Linked DNA regions of Homo sapiens. The protein of the gene in region 2 interacts with the protein of the main gene of each other region in a biochemical or structural test. Each region holds a gene or a part of one and is shown on either strand. Other genes may lie near its edges.

Region 1 (4,396 bases), on a different chromosome or scaffold from region 2:
GGGCAAGGTCCTGCCTCAGCATCGCACTGAGCAGATGAGTGTAGAACCTGGGTCTTCTAGCTAGACCAGGTTGCCTTAAAAGTCAGGAATGTGATGGCCGCTGCCACCTACTGAAGCTAAGCACTCCCAGGGGTGTGTTCTCCACCAGTTAACACTGGGATTCTCTGGTTGCCTGGATATGGGGAAAGGTGGCCACTTTCCCTCAAACACAACCCCTTGCCTCCCCATAGGGAGAGTCCCACTCCCAGTTGCCTTCCAGATGCTTCCTTAGAAGCTGAGTCCCTTCTGTTTACTGCTGAGTTAGGAGTTGGCTCCTGGGACATGCACTAGGGGTAGCGTTGTAATTTATCTGTCTCACTTCTGGCTCCAGGCCAGGCTATTTTCTCTGGGGCTCTGTGAGGGTAGGGGTTGATTTGAGAGGCTGACACCTAAGCTGGGGCCAAGAGAGAGACAGCTGTGGCTGGGGCCTGGAAGAGGTTGGGTGGGGTTGCCATTTCTGCCTCAATAAGGAGTCAAACCCACAAGTTCCTTCCTGAGATAAAACAATGAAGAAATCCTCATGTGTGCAACTCAGAAATGGGGCCAGGTCTGGGAACCCATGACGAGTGGACTGGGGTGGAGCTCCCAGCCTTCTCCCGAGACCTAGTACTGGCAGGTAGGCTTGGGTAGGTGAGGATAGGGCTTGATCCCTCTGGAATCATTTGGAGCCATCCTGTCTGGCTTGGCCTCTACCTATCCTCCTGAAAGTCAAGTGGCATGGGGCACTACGGGTTCCAGCTAAAGGGGGTGGGGTGGGGTGCTATACCTCAGGACCCATCCCTGATATCCTACCAAGGGGATGTGGCTTGGGTTGGGCAATCTCCCCTTTGAGGAACCTGAGAAAAGGCTCTGTGGCTGTCATTGGAGGAGTCATACTCCCTTCTGTTGATTCAAGAAGTGTGGACTTGGCTGGGATGCAGAGTTGCAGGGGAAGCTAGTGGTGATCTCCCCTTTCACAAATCCTTGGGGTTGAGAGAGTCTTTCTGCTTCATCCCAGAAGAGAGCCCAGTTCATGGTGATGCTGTGGTATCTGCTGCTTCCGTCTTTCAGCCCTGGCTGGAGAAATCCTCAGAGCCCTGAATGAAGTCAGGAGAAGGCCTGGATTATTGGCCCCTTAAACATAACCAGACAGGATTAAAAGGGATAATCCATGTAAAGCATGTTGTCCTGGCACCTAGTAAATGATCAGTAAGTGCTCAAAGCACATGCCTCCTCCTCTTCCCTGCCTTGAACTCCATGGTGCCCGGCCTTAAAATCAGAAACAGAACTGGGGTCTTGGGCTTTAAAAGTTTGATGGGCTTCCCTGCCTGAGACTTTGAGACTTCTGCTTTGCTCCCTCCTCTTCACTTCTCCAGCCACTGACCCCACCCTTTCCCCGCTTTTTCAGGACTGGGAGGTGCTGGTCCTAGGGAAGCTCAAGTGGGACCTGGCTGCTGTGATTGCACATGATTTCCTGGCCTTCATTCTGCACCGGCTCTCTCTGCCCCGTGACCGACAGGCCTTGGTCAAAAAGCATGCCCAGACCTTTTTGGCCCTCTGTGCTACAGGTAAGAGCCCTATGCACATTTTTGCCAAATTGGAAAAATCAGAAGACTTATAAGGGTGAGAGGTAACTGAAGATTCTGGTTTATACTGTCAAAATTCCTTTGTGAAAATTATACCCCCTCTGAGCCCCCAGTCTCAATGCAGAAAAGCAGGTTATAATCAGCTATATGGGATCTCAGACCCCTCCAGTTTGTAGTGGGGACACTGAGGGTATAGAGAGAAGTGACTTGCCCAAGGTCTCACAGTGAACAGGTTGGGAACAGAACCCCAGTCTCTTGGCCCTAGTTGTGTTCCCATACTAGGGAGTGTCTTGTCTATTCCCGGGACCTATGGAAACTGGCAGTTGGTTCTGATCTCTAGGAAAGATACTCTTTCCTGTCTTCCTCCCTTGCTGATATCTTGCCCCACCCACTGCTGGAGTTTTCCAGCATGTCCTCTGCTCTACTCATGCTGCCTGGCACTTTCCAAGGAGTCGGAAGTCCATGCTGGCCGTTATCCTTCAGGTTTCCTTCTCTCATGGTTCCCTTTCCTCCTCTCCAAGATTATACCTTTGCCATGTACCCGCCATCCATGATCGCCACGGGCAGCATTGGGGCTGCAGTGCAAGGCCTGGGTGCCTGCTCCATGTCCGGGGATGAGCTCACAGAGCTGCTGGCAGGGATCACTGGCACTGAAGTGGTGAGTGCTGGGTAGCTGGGCAGCAGCCTCTCCATTCATAAAGTAGTGCTATGCCCTGAGCCTCCAGTAGAGGGAAACCTCCAACCCCAACCTGGTCCCAAGTCCTGGTTTCACAACCTTGGGGCTTTGTGGCTTTTTATCTCCTGCCTTGGTCTGGGGAAGAGCAAGTATCTTGGGTGGGGTGAAGGGCACTGGCCCTAGGGGTTCTTTTCTTGCCAAGTGGTGTGCTGGAGTGGGGGTGGGGGGTTTGGTGTCAGATGCAGGGCTGCTCTCACACTCCCTTGCCACATCCTCTTGCTAGTTTCTGAGAACTAAAGAGCGATTCCTGGGGCCGGGCTGTGGCCTAACCTCCCCAGACTTCCCCATGTGTTGGGAGCTGTCCTTCCCCTGCACCTGCTGCCAGATGCTATGGGGGGAGTGTTTGCTCCTCACTCTTCTCCCATGTTCCCAGGACTGCCTGCGGGCCTGTCAGGAGCAGATCGAAGCTGCACTCAGGGAGAGCCTCAGGGAAGCCTCTCAGACCAGCTCCAGCCCAGCGCCCAAAGCCCCCCGGGGCTCCAGCAGCCAAGGGCCCAGCCAGACCAGCACTCCTACAGATGTCACAGCCATACACCTGTAGCCCTGGAGAGGCCCTCTGGAGTGGCCACTAAGCAGAGGAGGGGCCGCTGCCACCCACCTCCCTGCCTCCAGGAACCACACCACATCTAAGCCTGAAGGGGCGTCTGTTCCCCCTTCACAAAGCCCAAGGGATCTGGTCCTACCCATCCCCGCAGTGTGCACTAAGGGGCCCGGCCAGCCATGTCTGCATTTCGGTGGCTAGTCAAGCTCCTCCTCCCTGCATCTGACCAGCAGCGCCTTTCCCAACTCTAGCTGGGGGTGGGCCAGGCTGATGGGACAGAATTGGATACATACACCAGCATTCCTTTTGAACGCCCCCCCCCACCCCTGGGGGCTCTCATGTTTTCAACTGCCAAAATGCTCTAGTGCCTTCTAAAGGTGTTGTCCCTTCTAGGGTTATTGCATTTGGATTGGGGTCCCTCTAAAATTTAATGCATGATAGACACATATGAGGGGGAATAGTCTAGATGGCTCCTCTCAGTACTTTGGAGGCCCCTATGTAGTCCGTGCTGACAGCTGCTCCTAGAGGGAGGGGCCTAGGCCTCAGCCAGAGAAGCTATAAATTCCTCTTTGCTTTGCTTTCTGCTCAGCTTCTCCTGTGTGATTGACAGCTTTGCTGCTGAAGGCTCATTTTAATTTATTAATTGCTTTGAGCACAACTTTAAGAGGACATAATGGGGTCCTGGCCATCCCACAAGTGGTGGTAACCCTGGTGGTTGCTGTTTTCCTCCCTTCTGCTACTGGCAAAAGGATCTTTGTGGCCAAGGAGCTGCTATAGCCTGGGGTGGGGTCATGCCCTCCTCTCCCATTGTCCCTCTGCCCCATCCTCCAGCAGGGAAAATGCAGCAGGGATGCCCTGGAGGTGGCTGAGCCCCTGTCTAGAGAGGGAGGCAAGCCCTGTTGACACAGGTCTTTCCTAAGGCTGCAAGGTTTAGGCTGGTGGCCCAGGACCATCATCCTACTGTAATAAAGATGATTGTGAAATAAAACTGGCTTTGGCTTCTTGGATTGGTGTGTGGGTAAGTCTATTTCTGCACTGTATGAGGTAAGGAGGTGGAAGTCAATGGTCTAAAGCAGGGATCATTGAGCCTTTTCTGTAAAGGGCTGGATATTTAGGCTTTGTGGGGTACATGGTCTCTGACCCAAATATAGTCAGTTCTGCTTTATAATGTGACCTATGCGTTCCTAAAAATCACTATGCCATGCAAAATTGCACAATAAAGACCACAGGTCTCATGGGAAAAATGGGGCTTGAAGCACAACACTCAAATGAGTGACACATTTAAAAAAAAAGGATAGCTTGGTTTTTACATATGTCAAATGGTTGAGAAATTATATCACAATAAATATGGCCTTTTATCTTGAAGACATGCACTTTGCTTTTGGAAGTGGACGTCGGAAGGGTTGCTCAACACAGGTGGGGAGATGAGTGAGGTAGCTGGTACATGTTTAGGTGTGAGTTTTGTGTACTACTTAGGCTTGGTTCAGCTAGATACAGTTTCCCATATTCACCTAC
Region 2 (4,997 bases):
GCTCTTGCGTGAACTGGGCTCAACATTCCTGTTATTTGAGGTTTCTTGCGGGCAGGGTACAAAACTTTGGAGCCTGAGAGATGGTTCTGCCTATATAGTTTACCTGATTGATTTTGGAGGCAATGTGCAGTGACCCTTGACCTCTTCCGCTGGTTAGAGGTGAGAAGAGGGAGAAAAGGCCGAAGAGGAAGTTATTGTGACCTTGGGGACATGATGTCGGTGATGAGGTCCAAAGAGGGGCGGCCCTGCCTCAGCCTGTGCTAGTGGCCTGTGCCCAGGGATGCTTTCCTGGACTGGAGGCTCAAGGAATGGAGATGGGCTCCTCTACCCCTGCCCAGCCAGCCTTCTCTCATTCATTCATCCACTTAGCAACAATTTATTGAGCACCTATTAGGTACCAGGCACTATGCTAGGTACTGGGGTTCAGCAGCAAATGGGACACAGGCTCCTCTCCCATGAAGCTTAGGAGGAAACATTAAACAAATGTTATTTAATTATTAATTCCTAACAAGGCAAGAGTTTTAAAAATAAAGTAAGTGATGCTACAGAAGGGTAGAATAGAAGGAGGGAAGCTGACGTGGTCTGGGCTACAGAGGTAGAGTGTTGCCAGGAATGGCCTTTTGGAGGAAGACCTTTTAAGCTGTTATCCAAAGGATCAGTAAGAGTCTGGCAAAGATAGCAGAGCAGAGTTCCAAGCAGAGGGAGCACAGATGTGAAGGCTGGTGGCCAGAGAGCATGGCGCATCGGGACGCTGAGGGATGGACAGAGCATGGACAGGGAGCAAGGCCAGGCAGGGACAGGGCCAGGTGCGCCCATGGAAGGACCTAGGTCTGGATCCTAAATGCACGGAGAAGTCACTGGAGGGCTTTGGGGCCAGGCAGTGGTATCACCGGTCAGCAGTCATAGAGGGGTGGCCTAGGGGGTGCTGCCGTTGAGTGTCTGTGTGGGTGGGGGGTGGTGGGATTGAGCAGTGAGGGGCCCAGCTGAGAGCTCCTGTGCCTTCTTCTCTATCCCCGTGCCCACAGATCGTCCTGGGGTGCAGGACGCCGCGCTGATTGAGGCCATCCAGGACCGCCTGTCCAACACACTGCAGACGTACATCCGCTGCCGCCACCCGCCCCCGGGCAGCCACCTGCTCTATGCCAAGATGATCCAGAAGCTAGCCGACCTGCGCAGCCTCAATGAGGAGCACTCCAAGCAGTACCGCTGCCTCTCCTTCCAGCCTGAGTGCAGCATGAAGCTAACGCCCCTTGTGCTCGAAGTGTTTGGCAATGAGATCTCCTGACTAGGACAGCCTGTGGCGGTGCCTGGGTGGGGCTGCTCCTCCAGGGCCACGTGCCAGGCCCGGGGCTGGCGGCTACTCAGCAGCCCTCCTCACCCCGTCTGGGGTTCAGCCCCTCCTCTGCCACCTCCCCTATCCACCCAGCCCATTCTCTCTCCTGTCCAACCTAACCCCTTTCCTGCGGGCTTTTCCCCGGTCCCTTGAGACCTCAGCCATGAGGAGTTGCTGTTTGTTTGACAAAGAAACCCAAGTGGGGGCAGAGGGCAGAGGCTGGAGGCAGGGCCTTGCCCAGAGATGCCTCCACCGCTGCCTAAGTGGCTGCTGACTGATGTTGAGGGAACAGACAGGAGAAATGCATCCATTCCTCAGGGACAGAGACACCTGCACCTCCCCCCACTGCAGGCCCCGCTTGTCCAGCGCCTAGTGGGGTCTCCCTCTCCTGCCTACTCACGATAAATAATCGGCCCACAGCTCCCACCCCACCCCCTTCAGTGCCCACCAACATCCCATTGCCCTGGTTATATTCTCACGGGCAGTAGCTGTGGTGAGGTGGGTTTTCTTCCCATCACTGGAGCACCAGGCACGAACCCACCTGCTGAGAGACCCAAGGAGGAAAAACAGACAAAAACAGCCTCACAGAAGAATATGACAGCTGTCCCTGTCACCAAGCTCACAGTTCCTCGCCCTGGGTCTAAGGGGTTGGTTGAGGTGGAAGCCCTCCTTCCACGGATCCATGTAGCAGGACTGAATTGTCCCCAGTTTGCAGAAAAGCACCTGCCGACCTCGTCCTCCCCCTGCCAGTGCCTTACCTCCTGCCCAGGAGAGCCAGCCCTCCCTGTCCTCCTCGGATCACCGAGAGTAGCCGAGAGCCTGCTCCCCCACCCCCTCCCCAGGGGAGAGGGTCTGGAGAAGCAGTGAGCCGCATCTTCTCCATCTGGCAGGGTGGGATGGAGGAGAAGAATTTTCAGACCCCAGCGGCTGAGTCATGATCTCCCTGCCGCCTCAATGTGGTTGCAAGGCCGCTGTTCACCCACAGGGCTAAGAGCTAGCGCTGCCGCACCCCAGAGTGTGGGAAGGGAGAGCGGGGCAGTCTCGGGTGGCTAGTCAGAGAGAGTGTTTGGGGGTTCCGTGATGTAGGGTAAGGTGCCTTCTTATTCTCACTCCACCACCCAAAAGTCAAAAGGTGCCTGTGAGGCAGGGGCGGAGTGATACAACTTCAAGTGCATGCTCTCTGCAGCCAGCCCAGCCCAGCTGGTGGGAAGCGTCTGTCCGTTTACTCCAAGGTGGGGTCTTTGTGAGAGTGAGCTGTAGGTGTGCGGGACCGGTACAGAAAGGCGTTCTTCGAGGTGGATCACAGAGGCTTCTTCAGATCAGTGCTTGAGTTTGGGGAATGCGGCCGCATTCCCTGAGTCACCAGGAATGTTAAAGTCAGTGGGAACGTGACTGCCCCAACTCCTGGAAGCTGTGTCCTTGCACCTGCATCCGTAGTTCCCTGAAAACCCAGAGAGGAATCAGACTTCACACTGCAAGAGCCTTGGTGTCCACCTGGCCCCATGTCTCTCAGAATTCTTCAGGTGGAAAAACATCTGAAAGCCACGTTCCTTACTGCAGAATAGCATATATATCGCTTAATCTTAAATTTATTAGATATGAGTTGTTTTCAGACTCAGACTCCATTTGTATTATAGTCTAATATACAGGGTAGCAGGTACCACTGATTTGGAGATATTTATGGGGGGAGAACTTACATTGTGAAACTTCTGTACATTAATTATTATTGCTGTTGTTATTTTACAAGGGTCTAGGGAGAGACCCTTGTTTGATTTTAGCTGCAGAACGTATTGGTCCAGCTTGCTCTTCAGTGGGAGAAAACACTTGTAAGTTGCTAAACGAGTCAATCCCCTCATTCAGGAAAACTGACAGAGGAGGGCGTGACTCACCCAAGCATATATAACTAGCTAGAAGTGGGCCAGGACAGGCCCGGCGCGGTGGCTCACGCCTGTAATCCCAGCAGTTTGGGAGGTCGAGGTAGGTGGATCACCTGAGGTCGGGAGTTCGAGACCAACCTGACCAACATGGAGAAACCCTGTCTCTATTAAAAATACAAAAAAAAAAAAAAAAAAAATAGCCGGGCATGGTGGCGCAAGCCTGTAATCCCAGCTACTCAGGAGGCTGAGGCAGAAGAATTGAACCCAGGAGGTGGAGGTTGCAGTGAGCTGAGATCGTGCCGTTACTCTCCAACCTGGACAACAAGAGCGAAACTCCGTCTTAGAAGTGGACCAGGACAGGACCAGATTTTGGAGTCATGGTCCGGTGTCCTTTTCACTACACCATGTTTGAGCTCAGACCCCCACTCTCATTCCCCAGGTGGCTGACCCAGTCCCTGGGGGAAGCCCTGGATTTCAGAAAGAGCAAGTCTGGATCTGGGACCCTTTCCTTCCTTCCCTGGCTTGTAACTCCACCAACCCATCAGAAGGAGAAGGAAGGAGACTCACCTCTGCCTCAATGTGAATCAGACCCTACCCCACCACGATGTGGCCCTGGCCTGCTGGGCTCTCCACCTCAGCCTTGGATAATGCTGTTGCCTCATCTATAACATGCATTTGTCTTTGTAATGTCACCACCTTCCCAGCTCTCCCTCTGGCCCTGCCTTCTTCGGGGAACTCCTGGAAATATCAGTTACTCAGCCCTGGGCCCCACCACCTAGGCCACTCCTCCAAAGGAAGTCTAGGAGCTGGGAGGAAAAGAAAAGAGGGGAAAATGAGTTTTTATGGGGCTGAACGGGGAGAAAAGGTCATCATCGATTCTACTTTAGAATGAGAGTGTGAAATAGACATTTGTAAATGTAAAACTTTTAAGGTATATCATTATAACTGAAGGAGAAGGTGCCCCAAAATGCAAGATTTTCCACAAGATTCCCAGAGACAGGAAAATCCTCTGGCTGGCTAACTGGAAGCATGTAGGAGAATCCAAGCGAGGTCAACAGAGAAGGCAGGAATGTGTGGCAGATTTAGTGAAAGCTAGAGATATGGCAGCGAAAGGATGTAAACAGTGCCTGCTGAATGATTTCCAAAGAGAAAAAAAGTTTGCCAGAAGTTTGTCAAGTCAACCAATGTAGAAAGCTTTGCTTATGGTAATAAAAATGGCTCATACTTATATAGCACTTACTTTGTTGCAAGTACTGCTGTAAATAAATGCTTTATGCAAACCAATTTGCCTTATCCTTATAAGGACCTTATGGGAGATGAATCATTATTACCCCCATTTGACAGAAAGGATAGCTTGAGCAATGCCACACTAGCAAGGGATGGGATTTGAACCTTCAGCAGCTAGGTTCAGAAGCCACAAATTAACTGCTACATTGTCCTGCTTCCTATTGAGTTGGGGGACCTGACAGACGACTGATGGTCTTGCTAGCTCTCTCCTAGAGAGGAGATAAAAGAGGTTCCCATTCCTAAAGCAGGCCCTGAGCCAGGAAAATTAGAGGTGCTGGACCAAACTGTGCTCTACTCCCAGGAAGTGTGCAGTCAATATATGACACCTACGTGAGACCCTCAAAAATGAAAACCAAACAGCTACTGGCAAAACTGTGTCTGCCATTAGAGATGGCGGCTGTGCCAGTGACCTGGAGGATTACAAATGACTGCTGTGCAGAAACAGGACTCCTAAGGGGCCCAACTTATGCCGATGCACTCCATTCTGCTTCCCAAGGAAG
Region 3 (7,342 bases), on a different chromosome or scaffold from region 2:
GTCTCAAAAAAAAATATATATATATATATATATAAAGATGGAAAATTGTACACTATGTGCACTTGGCCACAATTTTTTTTAAAAGTCTTCCTTCCACTCACCCCACTTCGGCTCATCTCTTTTTGCTTTCTCATAAAGGTCTCTCCTGTTGATCGCAGCGAAGATCCACACGGCCATGGCCCACGCCTTCTCCTCCCCATTGAAGTCGATCATTAGCGTGGCTAGATCCACATGGTCTGCCTTCTCTGTCTGACCCCTCGGGAGGGGGATGCAGCCCTTCTGGGGAGGATAGTCCTCTAAGTGCATCTTAAATTTCTTCAAGTCCACATCCTCCAGGTCCTCCAGGTACCTGGCCAGCTTGCAGCGGGTGCTTGCCATCTTCATCTGCAGCTGTTTTCAGGGTCCTTAGGCTTCGGTCCACACTAAGATACCAGGCAGTGAACACGGCACACGGATGAGTCTTTTTTAAAGTCTCCACTTTGAGAGATATAAATTATCAAAAACTCAGCAAACAGAAAGAAAAAAATGTCACATGACTGTAACAAGTCAAAATCTTTAATTTTGAAAAGTTAGCCAAGGCCGGGCACAGTGGCTCACGCCTGTAATCCCAGCACTTTGAGAGGCCAAGGCAGGCAGATCACCTGAGCTGAGGAATTCAAGACCAGCCTGGCCAACATGGCAAAACTGTGTCTCTACTAAAAGTACAAAAATGAGCCGGGTGTGGTGGCGGGCGCCTGTAATCCCAGCTACTCAGGAAGTTGAGGTAGGAGAATTGATTGAACCCGGGAAGTGGAGGCTGCAGTGAGCCAAGATCACGCCACTGCACTCCAGCCTAGGCGACACAGCAAGACTCCATCTCAAAAAAAAAAAAGTTAGCCAAATGCTTACCAGAAAGTTCTCCTGTTGGCTCGATCCAGGAGTGTGTCCTGAGCCATGGAAGAAAGGTTTCCCTATGGAGGGAAAAATATGCAAACAAATCCATAAACAGGATTGTATTACAGTTTACGGTGAACAACCACTTCACGATGCCATCTTGACCCATCAGCAAGAAAATTTTTGTCCCGTTGATTACGGGGCTATGACATTGGACAAACTCTTCACTATTCCTCAACTTCAGTTTCCTCATCTACAAAATGAGAAAGCAGAAGAGAATGTTTTCAGTTCCTCCAAACTGAAGGCTCTGGCTCTTTGCTTCTGTTTTTGTGAGGGAAGAGGGATGAGAGACAATAGAAGGAGAAGGCCAGGAGGTGAGTAAGTGTGTTGATAACAGAACAGGACGTGGCTAGGGAGAGAGGAGAGAGAACATAAAAGCTTGCAGAGGAGGGGACAGTCTTTGACTGCACTTCTATCAACCAGTGGATTGAAGTGAGATGAAGCTGGGAGTGCATAATGGAGAATAATAAAAACATACATCCCTGTAATCCCAGCACTTTGGGAGGCCGAGGTGGGCGGATCACCTGAGGTCAGGAGTTGGAGACCAGGCTCACCAAACAACAGGGAGAAATCCCGTCTCTACTAAAAATACAAAAATTAACCGGGCATGGTACCAGGCACCTGTAATCCCAGCTACTCGGGAGGCTGAGGCAGGAGAATCGCTTGAACCCAGGAGGCGGAGGTTGCGATGAGCCAAGATCACACCACTGCACTCCAGCCTGGGCAATAAGAGCAAAACTCCATCTCAAAAAATAAAATAGAATAAAATAAAATAAATAAAAACATACATCCTTTAATGTCTCCTTGCAAAATTCGCAATTGTTATCATTATAATTCACATTAATTTAGAGCTTTCCACAGGCTAGGCACTCACTGATGTTTTTCCCCATCTAACCTGCACAGAGCTCTATGAGGTGCACCTATTCCTAGCCCCATTTTATAGATGCATAAACTGAGTCTTAGGGGGACTAGGAAGCCTGCCGAGGGGTTTAGAACCAGGAAGGAACAGAGCCAGGATTTTGACCAGAGATATGAGACCATGTCTTCCATCACTTGTTTCAGTCAGACAAAGACAAAGACAACAAAATAGATGACTAAAAGACACACTTCCCCAGCATTTATCACAGGTGTATCACTGCAGCATTCACCAACATAGTCTTCCCAACTAGACTGTGAGTTCCACAAAAACTAGCAATCACCTGCTGTATCTTTAGATCTTCCATATCTCCTAGAGTCCGGATGGATGAACAAGTTGGCTTTGTTTGGAATTGTTCCCTCCTTGATCCCTTGATTATACTCTATTTGGCAAAGCACCTCAACCTAAAGCCATAAATAACACTCAAGGGAGGCAGAGAGCCTGGAAAACGGTGGAGCTCTCCAAATTGGAATTTCTGTGACTGCAGTTCAATGTCAAGATGCCTCAGACTCACTCATCTCTCCCGTCCCATCTCCATTCCTGCCTATCTACTCCTCGCCTCCTGAGCCCTGCAAACCCAGCCCTGTGCATCCTGAGGTGACTGCTCTCCAGACAGCCCTATTAGCTCCGCATACCCTCCCAGCTCCTGCCCATCCTGAGGTGACTGCTCTCCAGACAGCCCTATTAGCTCCGCATACCCTCCCAGCTCCTGCCCCATCAGTCCTTCCATCTGCATCAGGATTCTGCCTTTCTTCTGTGCTCCTTCCACCCTAACACCAGCACAAAAATCTGCTGCCCTTTGGTCTTTAAGGAGGTTTGTTTCCTTCTGTATATCCCATCCATCTTCTCCCCTGGGAGGGATACTGGGCAAATCTGCTGAAGTCGTGGGTGTAAACTATGGTTGCTGCCGCTGTCCTCCCCGCTTCCCCCCGCCACATACACACACACGAACTTGCACACGTAGAGCCCAAATAATGATAAAAGAACATTCCAGAAATGTTGTTGAAGCACAACCTTGGAGACGCCAGAAGAAATTCCTAGTGCATTAACCAGGACAAGTTCTGCCCTCTGAACACAATCTCCCCCACTGCTCTCCCGGTCCTGTCGCCCACACTGCCCCGCGGAGCTGGACTTACCCAGATGCCAGCCTCAGGAACAGCTAGAGAGGAAATGCAATGAATTTATAGCAGTCGCAGCCCCAGAAGGGGCAGGAAGGATGTGGTCTCCACTTACATCAGAGCAGAGGCAGAGAGACTAATGGTTAATCACATAGCTGGATTTTCCAAATGGGATCAACAGTGTTGTCAAAACCGTGTCTCGGTTCCATACTGGGGTTCACCTTGCTCTCCTCTGAGGCACCCCACAGAAGCAGGGTGGGAGGCCAGTATGAGATGGGGCTGGGGGTCAAATCGGCAGTGCTAAATGGATGTTGCCTCTGACACTGCCCGCTGCAACGGCTCCACTGAGAGTGAGGGAAGTGAAACTAAGGACATGCCATGCGAGTGAGTAAAGAATCCAGAGCATGACCTGACCCAGCCTTCAAACTCCAGAGTCCATGCCCTGTCCTCTCACAGCAAGATGGCTGGAAGGCAGTACAGGTTCTCTCCGACATGTTCTACTTTTAAAGCACAAATTTTACTCCCTGACTCATTGACTCACCTGTTCCACTAACACTCACGGAATGGCTGGTATGTGGCAGGCATGCACACAAAGCCTCAGCTTGAGTAGCTTGAGGAGAGACACACACAGACCTACTCTGCAGCTCATGAGACGGCCGCAGGACCACAGACCGGCAAAGGCACAAGTTCAACAGAGCTTGGTGGGTGAGAGGCACTCGCTCAGCCTCTGGGTGAGTGAAAAGGACGAGCACCCAGTTCAGTGGAGGGATGTCAGCAAATGACTGGGTCTGTCTGTGCCTCATACCTGTAAAAGGGTGACAATAATTGCCTGCTACTTCTTTAGATCTTCCAAATCTCCTAGACTCAGGATGGATGAACAAGTGGTTTTGCTTGGAATTGCCCCCTCCTTGATCCCTTCATTATACTGCATTTGACCAAGCACTACATCAACCCAAATAACGGTACCTATCCTAGAAGGCTGTCAGAAAACACTGAGTGAATGGCTAAACGTGAGGCCTTTAAAACAGAGCCTGGCACAGAGAAGCTAGAATAAGCAGTTGGTTCCGATGACTACCACCTTTCTACAGAACTGCAGAGAGAATGCTCTACAACATGAGAGAGGCATCTAGTCCTGCTTAGGGGCATGACAGCAGACCTGAGTCTCCATGAACCAGGTGAAAGGTGTCATTCGGGGCTGGAGCTGAGGCAGGAGCAGCAAAAACTTCAGGTGCTGAAGCTAGAGAGAAAGCAGACCAAATATGCTCCAAAAGAAAGGAGCTCAGCCTGGGTGCAGTGGCTCATGCCTGTAATCCCAGCACTTTGAGAGGCCAAGGCAGGCAGATCACAAGGTCAGGAGTTTGAGACCAGCCTGGCCAACATGACGAAACCCCATCTCTACTAAAAATATAAAAAAAAATAGCTGGGTGTGGTGGCGGGCACCTGTAATCCCAGCTACTCAGGAAGCTGAGGCAAGAGAATCACTTGAACCTGGGAGGTGGAGGCTGCAGTGAGCTGAGATTGTGCCACTGCACTCCAGCCTGGGTGACAAGAGCAAGACTCCATTTCAAAAAAAAAAAAAGGAGCTCATTGGCTGAACCTGGGATCTTTTTGTTTTTGTTTGTTTAGTCAAGTTAATTTAGGTATAATTCAGCCGGGCGCAGTGGCTCACGCCTGTAATCCCAGCTCTCAGGGAGGCAAGAGGCGGGAGGATAGCTTGAGCCCAGGAGTTCGAGACCTGCCTGGGCAATATAGTGAGACCCCATTCTCCAGAAAAAGGAAAAAAAAAAGACAAATTTAGGTATAATTCATATGCAGTAAAAATCCATGCCTTTATAAAAACAGACCCATAGACCAGTGGAACAGAAATAAACTCAAGTATATGCAGTCAACTAATTCTTTGACAAGGTCACCAAGAAGACACAATGGAGAAAGGACAATCTCTTCAATAAAGATGTTGGCTATAGAAGTGTGAAAAAAAAATCAAGAAAAATATAAGATTTTGAAAAATTAAGCTTTTGGTGAAACTGGATTTCCACACGCAAAAGAATAAAACTTGGCACACACAAAAACCAACTCAAAATGGATTAAAGATCTAAACATAAGATCTAAAACTGTAAAACTCCTAGAAGAAAATAGAGAAGAAGCCAGGCATGGTGGCTCATGCCTGTAATCCCAGCACTCTGGGAGGCTGAGGCAGGAGGATCACCTGAGGCCAGAAGTTCACAGTCAGCCTGGGCAACATAGTGAGACTTTGTGTCTACAAAATTAAAAAAAAAAAAATTAGCCAGGCATGGTGCTGTGCACCTGTAGCCCAGCTACTCAGGAGGCCGAGGCAAGAAGATCACTTGAGCCCAGGAATTTGAGGTTACAGTGAGCTATAATGACACTACTGCATTCCAGCCTGGGTAACAGAATGAGACCCAATCTCTAAACAGATAAAAAACTAAATATAAAAAATAGAAAACAGAGGAGAAAACTTCTTGATATTAGCCTTGGCATGGATATTTTTAATGTCTCAACAAAAGCAAAGGAACAAAAGTAAAGATAAATAAGTGGGAATACATCAAAGTAAAAAGCTCCTGTATAGCAAAAGAAACAATCAACAGAGTGAAAAGGTAGCCAACAAATTGGAAGAAAATAGTTTTAAGCCATATATCAGATAAGTAGTTAATATGCAAAATATGTAAGGAATTCACACAACTCAAAGCATAAAACAAATAATCTGATTTTTAAAATGAAGAAAGGAACTGAATAGACATTTCTCTAAAAAAGAAACAAAAATGGTCAACATGTATACAAAAAAGTGCTCAACATCACTAATCATCAGGGAAATGCAAACCAAACCCACAATGAGGTACCACCTCAAACCTGTTAGGATGGCTATTAGCAAAATGACAAGAGACAAACATTGGCTAGGGCGTGAAGAACAGGGAACCCTTGCACATTGCTGCTGGGAATGCAGATTGGTGCAGCCATTGCAGAAAACAATATGGAGGTTCCTAAAGAAATTAAAAATAGAACTACCGTATGACCCAGCAATCCTTCTTCTGAGTGTGTATCCAAAGGAAATAAAATCACCACCTCACAAAGACATCTGTGCACTCATGTTCATAGCAGCATTATTCACCATGGTCCAGATAGGCAAACAACCCAAGTGTCTATTGACAGATGAATAAATAAAGAGTTTGGGGCATATATACACAATACAATCTTAGTTAGTATTAAAAATTGAGACTCTGCTATTTGCCACAACATAGATGAACCCGGTGGACTTTACACAAAGCATAATAAGCCAGGCACAGAAAGACAAACACTACATGATCTCACTCATATGTGGAACCTTAAAAAAAAAAAAAAAAAAAGTTAGGCCAGGAGTGGTGCCTCACACCTGTAATCCCAGCACTTTGGGAGGCTGAGGTGAGTGGATCACTTGAGCCCAAGAGCTTGAGACCAGCCTGGGCAAGATAGTGAGGCTTCACCTCTACCAAAAAAATGAAAAAAAGAAAAGAAAGGAGGGAGGGAGGGAAGGAAGCCAGGTGCAGTGGTGTGCACATGTCACCCCAGCTACTTGAGAGGCTGGGAGGCTGAGGTGGGAGGATTGCTTGAGTCTGGGAGGTCGAGGCTGCAGTGAGCCGAGATCACACCACTGCACTCCAGCCTGAGTGACAGACCGAGATCCTGTCTCAAAAAAAAATAGTTGAATATATAGAAACAGAGAGTTACCGGGGTAGAGGAAATAAAATGACGGTCAAAGGGTACGAAATTTCGGTTATGTAGGATAAATAAGCCGAGAGATCTAACAAACAGTGTGGGAACGATAGTTAAAAATATTATAAACCTGAAATTTGCTAAGAGAGATTTTAGATGTTTTTACCACCCACAAGAAAGATTATTATGTGAGATGGTGGCTATGTTAACTCATGTTAATTTGCTTGACTGCAGCAATCATTTCACTATGTATATCAAACTGCCATGTTATACACCTGAAATATGTACAATAAAATAAATATTCGCACCTTTTTCATGCACAGGCCTGTGAGTGCTCACAAGCATATAGCTACCCACCACCACAGCCCACACAGAGCACCTGCATCAGCTGCACATGCTCCCTGTGCAGCCTCTGTCCCCACCCACTGTGCTGCCACATAGTCAGCCTCTGTCCCCACCCGCAGCCCCACTTCTTCCACCTGCTAAAGCATTACCTTTTCCAGAGCATCACATAAACAGTGTGCAGCCTTTGGTGAGCGAGTCCGCTCACTTCATATGATGCCTGTGAGATTCAGATCAGTAGCTTATTCCTTTTTACTGCAGTTAAGTATTTCATGGGTTGGATAGGCCACAATTTGGTTTTCTATTCCCTAGGCAAAGGACAGTT
Region 4 (7,039 bases), on a different chromosome or scaffold from region 2:
GAGACACAGTTAAGGCCATCTCTGGAGTTCCAGGTTGTCTGTGAGGTAGACCTGGTATCTGAATTCAAGTAAAGACCTGGAATACCTCATCGCCTGAATTCTGAACAGCAGATTCATGCTGGAGCAGAGCCAATTTCTTGAAACGGCAGGTTCTCGACACTTCTATATCACAGAAATGGAGCCTGAACTCATGGGGAAGAAAATAAAAACTTATCTACTGATCCATTCATCACAGTGCTTTGTCGACTAGCCACTATCATCATCTTTATAACTAGCAATCTAGAATACAACCATTACATTTAATGGAATTCTAAAATATAATCTTTTTACATATACTAGTATGTTTTTTAATTAACACAAAAATTTGCTGTCAAGAAAAATCTAGGTTTTTATTATCAGTGGACTTTTCCTATGAAAAACATTGTGATAAATTGAAGCCAAGAAAAACTTCAGGCCAGCCATGGTGTCTCCTGCCTGTAATCCCAGCATTTTGGGAGGCCAAGGTGGGAAGACAGCTTGAGGCCAGGAGTCTGAGACCAGCCTAGGCAACACAGCAAGACCATGTCTCTAATTTTAAAGAAATAAATAAGGCGAGGCACAGTGGTTCATGCCTGTAATCCCAGCACCTTGGAGAGGCTGAGACGGGATAATTGCTTGAGCCCAGGAGTTCGAGACCAGCCTGGGCAACACAGAGAGACTCCATCTCTACAAAAAATTAAAAATTAGCCAGATGTGGTAATGCAAGCCTGTAGTCCCAGATACTCAGGAGGCTGAGGCAGGAGGATCGCTTGAGCCCAGAAGGTCAAGGCTGCAGTGAGCCATGTTCACATCACTACACTCCAGCCTGGGCAATAGCGCAAGAGCCTGTCTCAAAAAAAATTAAAATAATAAATAAACAAGAAAAAAATAAAGACTAGAGAATAGCTAGAAAGAGTAAACTACCCAAATTTATATCAGCTAGAAAGCAGATTTAAAAACTGTGGTACAGTCATGAAATAAGTACTACTTTTTTTGTTTGTTTTGAGACAGAGTCTCACTCTGTTGCCCAGGCTGGAATTCAATGACACAATCTTGATTCACTGCAACCTCCACCTTCCCAGGTCAAGCAATGAAAATACTACTTTTAATATAAAAGAAGAAACTACTACATGCTGCAACACAGATCTGTTGCAAAAGCACTGTTCTAAGCAAAAGAAAACAGACACATGATTCCATTTCTATGAAATTCAAAAAGGAAAAGCATTACAGTGAGAGAAAGCAGAACAATGGTTGCTAGGTAGCCAGGACCTAGCCTAGGGGGAAGTGACTGAAAATACAAAGGGAAACCAGGTAACTTTTTGGGGTGATGAAAATGTCCTGTACCTGGATTGTGGTGGTGATTACACAACTGTACACATTTGCCGAAATTCATCAAACTGTACACCTAAAATGGGTTAATTTTACTGAATGTAAAGTATAACTCAATAAAGATGAAAGAGTCAAAGACATTTTATTAAGTGATACTGTCAGAAATTGAACAAATAACAGTACTTTAGCTGTGCAAGTAACATAAATTGTGTATTTACAAGTAAAATAACATTAAATATTAATACCTTCTTTAATATCCTGACAAAATGACAATGTTACAAAGCATGGTTATCTAAGAATTTATCGTATTTCTAATTTGGAAGGGGTTTTGTTACCACTACACTGATTGTCTCAAGAAAGTAATAAGAAATATGATCTCAGAGAATAATTTCTTATAGCCAAGTTCAATTGACTAATACCTCACCTGTCTATTAGTTCATGAAAATGCTGCAAACTTTTCACATGACAATCTTATTTCTCAAAGTGACCCCATGGAAAAATCACTGAATTTCAAGAATCCTGTCTTATCATCCTTATCTAACAATTACAAGTGACTGCTGACAAAAAATGCTGTCATACCGGAGGTTAAGAAGTTATAGCACTGAGGCCTGGCACAGTGGCTCACGCCTGTAATCCCAACACCCTGGGAGGCTAAGGCAGGTGAACACCTGAGGTCGGGAGTTCGAGACCAGCCTGACCAACATGGTCAAACCCCGTCTCCACTAAAAATACAAAATTAGCCAGGCGTGGTGGCTCACACCTATAATCTCAGCCACTTGGGAAGCTGAGGCAGGAGAATCACTTGAACCCGGGAGGCGGAAGTTGCAGTGAGCAGAGATCACGCCACTGCACTCGAGCCTGGGCAACAAGAGCGAAACTCCATCTCAAAAAAAAAAAAAAAAAAAAAAAGTTACAGCACTGAGCTTTAAGGAACTAAATAATTCCCCAGTGGCCCCTTCTTCTAAGGTTACAATCCAAATTCTAAGGTTATTCTACAAATGTCAAATTTTTTAACATGTTAGAACCCAATCAGCTTTATTAAGTAAAATTATCAAAATTGTCAATCAGAAATAAGCATTTATGAGACAACAGGAAAATCTGGGCAATTTTGTTATTAAGGTTTTTTCAGGTTTTTTTTTAAAGGCTTCATATTTTGAAATATATAGTGAAGATACAGCAATTAAATTACCTGATAGAGGAGAATAAATGGGGAGAGAGTTGAAATCAGATTGGCCATGAGTTGACAACTGTTAAGACTGTGTGATGGGAACATGGTTGTTCATCATACTATTCTCTCTACTCTTGTATATGCTTAAAATTTTCCAAAATAAAAGGCTTAAAAATAATACTCAGGGGAAAACTTAAAAACCAGTTCTAAAAATAAACCAACAATTCATAACCACAGTGAGCCAAGAGAAGAGGCTATTTTCACATGACCAGAATGCCAAGGAGTCAAAATGACAGAAACATGGATGCTAACTAGAGTCTGTTTTCTTAATTAGAAATATGTATAATATGGGCGAGCGCAGTGGCTCCCGCCTGTAATCCCAACACTTTGGGAGGCCTAGGTGGGCAGATCACGAGGTCAGGAGTTCAAGACCAGCGTGATCAACACGGTGAAACCCCATCTCTACTAAAAATACAAAAATTAGCCAGGTATGGTGGCGTGCGCCTGTACTCCCAGCTACTCAGGAGGCTGAGGCAGCAGAATCGCTTGAACCCGGGAGGCGGAGGTTGCAGTGAGCCAAGATTGTGCCAAAATGGCACCACTGCATTCCAGCGTGGGCAAGAGCGAGACTCAAAAAACAAAATAAATATGTATGATAAAATGAGGGAGGGGAGACATTAAGTACATCCTCCTGTAACATAAAATTGCTTCCTTTAATATACCTTATAAGATCTACGTCCATGTAACTCAGTCTTCAGCAATTAAATTTTCCTTTGGAAACTATTTCCTAAATAACCTAATGGTCTAATTGTTAGGGGAAAAAACCCTGACCTTTCCTAATTTCACCTATTATTCCTAGTCGTATTCCTGTGTATCCTGTAATTTTCTTCACAAGTGTCTGTTTATTCCTAGGCCTATGATTCAGTCACAGATATCCTGATTTATAAAATTGCTCTGCCTTTGTTTTGATTTTCTATTTTGCTTGGCTATTCTACACCCTGCTGTTAATCTTACTTAAGCAAATTCATTTAAACATTTTAGTTAGGCCAGACTGTACTTTTCCAATACAATAAATCTAGTATTGGTTTTTTATTGTTTGTTTTTGGTTTTGTTTTTGTTTTTGAGATGGAGTCTCGCTCTGTCACCCAAGCTGGAGTGCAGTGGCGCAATCTTGGCTCACTGCAACCTCCACCTCCCAGGTTCAAGCAATTCTCCTGCCTCAGCCTCTTGAGTAGCTGCAACTACAGGCATGCACCACCATGCCCAGCTAATTTTTGTATTTTTAGTAGAGATGGGGTTTCACCATGTTGGCCAGGCTGGTCTCAAACTTCTGACCTCAGATGATCCGCCCACCTCAGCCTCCCAAAGTGCTGGGATTACAGGCATGAGCCACCGCACCTGGCATAATGCATTTAGTATTGCTTTTAGGTAACAATCTCAATAATCAAATGGTGAGATTTTTCACTGATTTGGTAATATGATGCTCCATCCCACACAACCTAATGTCTGGGGGGTTTTTTTATTGATTTTTTTGTTTTTTTGTTTTTTGGTGCACCACAATAAAATTTCAAGCAGCTTTCAACTATTATAACCTCTACTCACCACAACCTTTGTTATGCTTCATATAATCCCTGGCATATTTTCTGGCTCCTACTGAGTGAAGATATGCCTGAGTCTTTAAAACCTCAAAGTTCTTAATAAACATAATGAGCACTCACTGAATGCCAAGACTTGTGCAAAAACACACTTTCTATGCCAACACTATCCAAGAGAACTTTCAGTGATGATGGCACTGCTCTGTATTTGCACTGTCCAATGTGGTAGTGAGTAGCTACGTGGCACTACAGTGCACTTAAAATGTGACTAGCTACAGATGAAGTGACTTAAATTTTTATTTAATTTTAATCAATCTTAATTAATTTTTTTTTCCTTTTTTTTGAGACAGAGTCTTGCTCTGTCGCCCAGGCTGGAGTGCAGTGGCGCGATCTTGGCTCACTGCAACCTCTGCCTCACGGGCTCAAGCTCTGTCTCACAGGCACAAGCAATTCTCCTGCCTCAACCTCTTGAGTAGCTGGGATTACAGGCGTCCACCACCACACCCAGCTAATTTTTGTATTTTTAGTAGAGATGGGGTTTCACCATGTTGGCCAGGCTAAGGGGTCTCGAACTCCTGACCTCAAGTGATTCGCCCGCCTCAGCCACCCAAAGTGCTGGGATTACAGGCATGAGCCACTGGCCGGGCCTTAATCTTAATTTAAACAGTCATGTTTTAAAAATTAAGAATATATATTGCGGCCAGGTACATTGGCTCATGCCTGTAATCCCAGCATTTTGGTAGGCTGAGGCAGATGGATCACCTGAGGTTAGGTTCAAGAGCAGCCTAGCCAACATGACGAAACCCCATCTCTACTAAAAATACAAAAATTAGCCAGACATAGTGGTATGCGTCTGTAACTTGGGAGGCTGAGGAAGGAGAATCGCTTGAACCCAGGAGGTGGACGTTGCATTGAGCCGAGATCCGGCCACTGCCTCCAGCCTAGGAGACAAAGCAAAACTGTGTCTCAAAAAAGAAAAAAAAAAAGAACGTATATTGCTTGAAATATTCTTCATAAAAGTCATTTTCACTTATTTTTACAACCAAATGCATTGAAGATCATCTAGGATGGGCTTCCTTAACCTTAGCACAACTGACATTTTGGACCCCGTAATTCTTTGTTGTGGGGGCTATCCTATGCATTATAGGATGTTTAGCAGCATCTCTGGCCTCCATCCACTAGAGGCCAGTAGCAATGCCCCAGCTGTGACAATAAAAAATGTCTCCAGACACTGCCCAATAAGGGGAGGGGGTTGTGTGTGGAGGGTGCAAAATCACACCAAGCTGAGAAGTACTAATCTAGAACTAAGAGTCGATTCTGCTCTGAATGCTAAGGATATTCTAGGGCAACTCTTTTGAGTTCCTGCTTTGCTATCTGGAAACCAGGCAACACGTAAAAAGTTAAAAGTAACCATCTCTTCGTAATGTTTTCCGTAGAATCCACATTATAATATTGATCTTTTCCCATCTACTGTCTCAACTGTTCCTCCCTGACCTTGAGGAGAGTGCTACACCTAATTCAGAGATTGATGTGGGGGGTTCTAAGAGGTTAAATGACTAGGCTACCAGCGCAGAGTTTGAAACTCCTGTCTATAGTATCTTACCTTGTGTTATGACACCTGAAAGGGAAACTCTAAGCTTAGAGAAAAATCCTTTTGATATGACAATCTCAATAAAGACTGTTTATGACTGCACAATACGTTGTAATGCCAAAAGGCAAATCTCACAGGAAAATTCCACATACAGACAAGCAATAAGAACTGGTTTGTTTCGTAACTAACCTGCATCTTGAGGAATAATTCAGGACAAGGACAATAAATGCCATAACCACATCACCTTAAGAAGACCTATCCTAACCTAGTACCAAGAAAAGGTTAAGAGCGTCAGCCTCTGAAAAAAAGGCATAAACCCATTAGGAGCCCTGGAAAGAGCAGTTGAGGGGAAAACGGAATCAAAACACTAAGACAGGTGGCCACACTGCCTGAAGGCTGGGATGTCTGAGACAGCAGAACCATTCTGGAATACAAGCCACGTGAAGTGGAATGGAGCCCTGGACTTTAAAGAAAAGTCAGAAGACCCATCAGGTGGACCTCAGCTGTCTCTCAGTAGTTGTATCCCTGCATAAACACTGTAAATCTCTGTGCCTATTTTTTCAGCTCATTAGTGAGGCACTTTCCAGGCTATTAGTGAGGCAGGCCTTTCAGCTCTCCCCTCAAGCTCGACGAACCACATTCTTTATATTGTTTTACTGTTTCTCTGAGACAATGTTTTAAGCAGGAACGTAGTACTAACTCAAGAAATCCATTGGAAAGGAGATCAAAATGTCCAAAGTATCTGAGCACTGAATGGTTTCAATTCAGCTCAATGAATATTTGCTTGAGGGCCCAGCATTCTGTGCCAGGCACCTTGTAATCATTCTGGGAAGTCACAGCCAACATCCTCTTCTTTCCACCCCAGCCATCCCCACCTGTATTTGTCAATTTCATCCTGGCATCATTATTATTCATTATTGGCAAGTCTGAAAACACAAATTATGAAAAAAAGATACTTTTTTATGCTTTGTACATTTTAGACACTTGAGACATCAGACTATGATGCTGAACAAAATATTTGACTTTTTAAGAGGATGTGGGTAAAGAAAGAAAACGTATTTGAAGAAAACACTACTGTTTTGAGGACCAAGTTTTCTTCAGCTGAGCAATTTATTTGCAGTACCATTCTGCCTGTCTAATCTTACTACTTTTATTCCAAAGTATAAAGTCTATTTACACCCTTTTCATACATAACTATGATTATCATTTTATTTGTGACTCTCATACATTTCTCATAATAAAAAAAGTCAAGCTACAGTAGCAGTAGCTTTTTTATTGCCCCAACTTACTAAAACTTGGTAAAGTTTTTATCTTTAGATGAAAATACGCTTATTCTAG

Evidence for each region.
Region 1: the proteins of VDR (region 2) and CCND3 form a complex in vitro, tested with the Homo sapiens proteins (one study listed by BioGRID).
Region 3: the proteins of VDR (region 2) and NLRP3 form a complex in vitro, tested with the Homo sapiens proteins (one study listed by BioGRID).
Region 4: the proteins of VDR (region 2) and UBR5 form a complex in vitro, tested with the Homo sapiens proteins (one study listed by BioGRID).

Annotation. Positions count from the first base shown.
Region 1 is NC_000006.12:41,934,425-41,938,820, reverse strand, and holds the end of CCND3 (G1/S-specific cyclin-D3), read left to right. Parts: exon of another isoform or gene 1-655; intron 656-1,426; coding exon 1,427-1,586; intron 1,587-2,125; coding exon 2,126-2,262; intron 2,263-2,713; coding exon 2,714-2,881; coding exon of another isoform or gene 2,882-2,970; 3' UTR 2,971-3,869; downstream 3,870-4,396. UniProt on the Homo sapiens protein: Regulatory component of the cyclin D3-CDK4 (DC) complex that phosphorylates and inhibits members of the retinoblastoma (RB) protein family including RB1 and regulates the cell-cycle during G(1)/S transition.
Region 2 is NC_000012.12:47,841,034-47,846,030, reverse strand, and holds the end of VDR (vitamin D3 receptor), read left to right. Parts: intron 1-1,025; coding exon 1,026-1,285; coding exon of another isoform or gene 1,286-1,486; 3' UTR 1,487-4,494; downstream 4,495-4,997.
Region 3 is NC_000001.11:247,411,837-247,419,178, reverse strand, and holds the start of NLRP3 (NACHT, LRR and PYD domains-containing protein 3), read right to left. Parts: upstream 3,007-7,342; 5' UTR 2,986-3,006; exon of another isoform or gene 2,864-2,985; intron 2,767-2,863; exon of another isoform or gene 2,133-2,766; intron 1,127-2,132; 5' UTR 385-1,126; coding exon of another isoform or gene 379-384; coding exon 102-378; intron 1-101. UniProt on the Homo sapiens protein: Sensor component of the NLRP3 inflammasome, which mediates inflammasome activation in response to defects in membrane integrity, leading to secretion of inflammatory cytokines IL1B and IL18 and pyroptosis.
Region 4 is NC_000008.11:102,402,675-102,409,713, forward strand, and holds part of UBR5 (E3 ubiquitin-protein ligase UBR5), read right to left. Parts: intron 1-7,039. UniProt on the Homo sapiens protein: E3 ubiquitin-protein ligase involved in different protein quality control pathways in the cytoplasm and nucleus. Mainly acts as a ubiquitin chain elongator that extends pre-ubiquitinated substrates.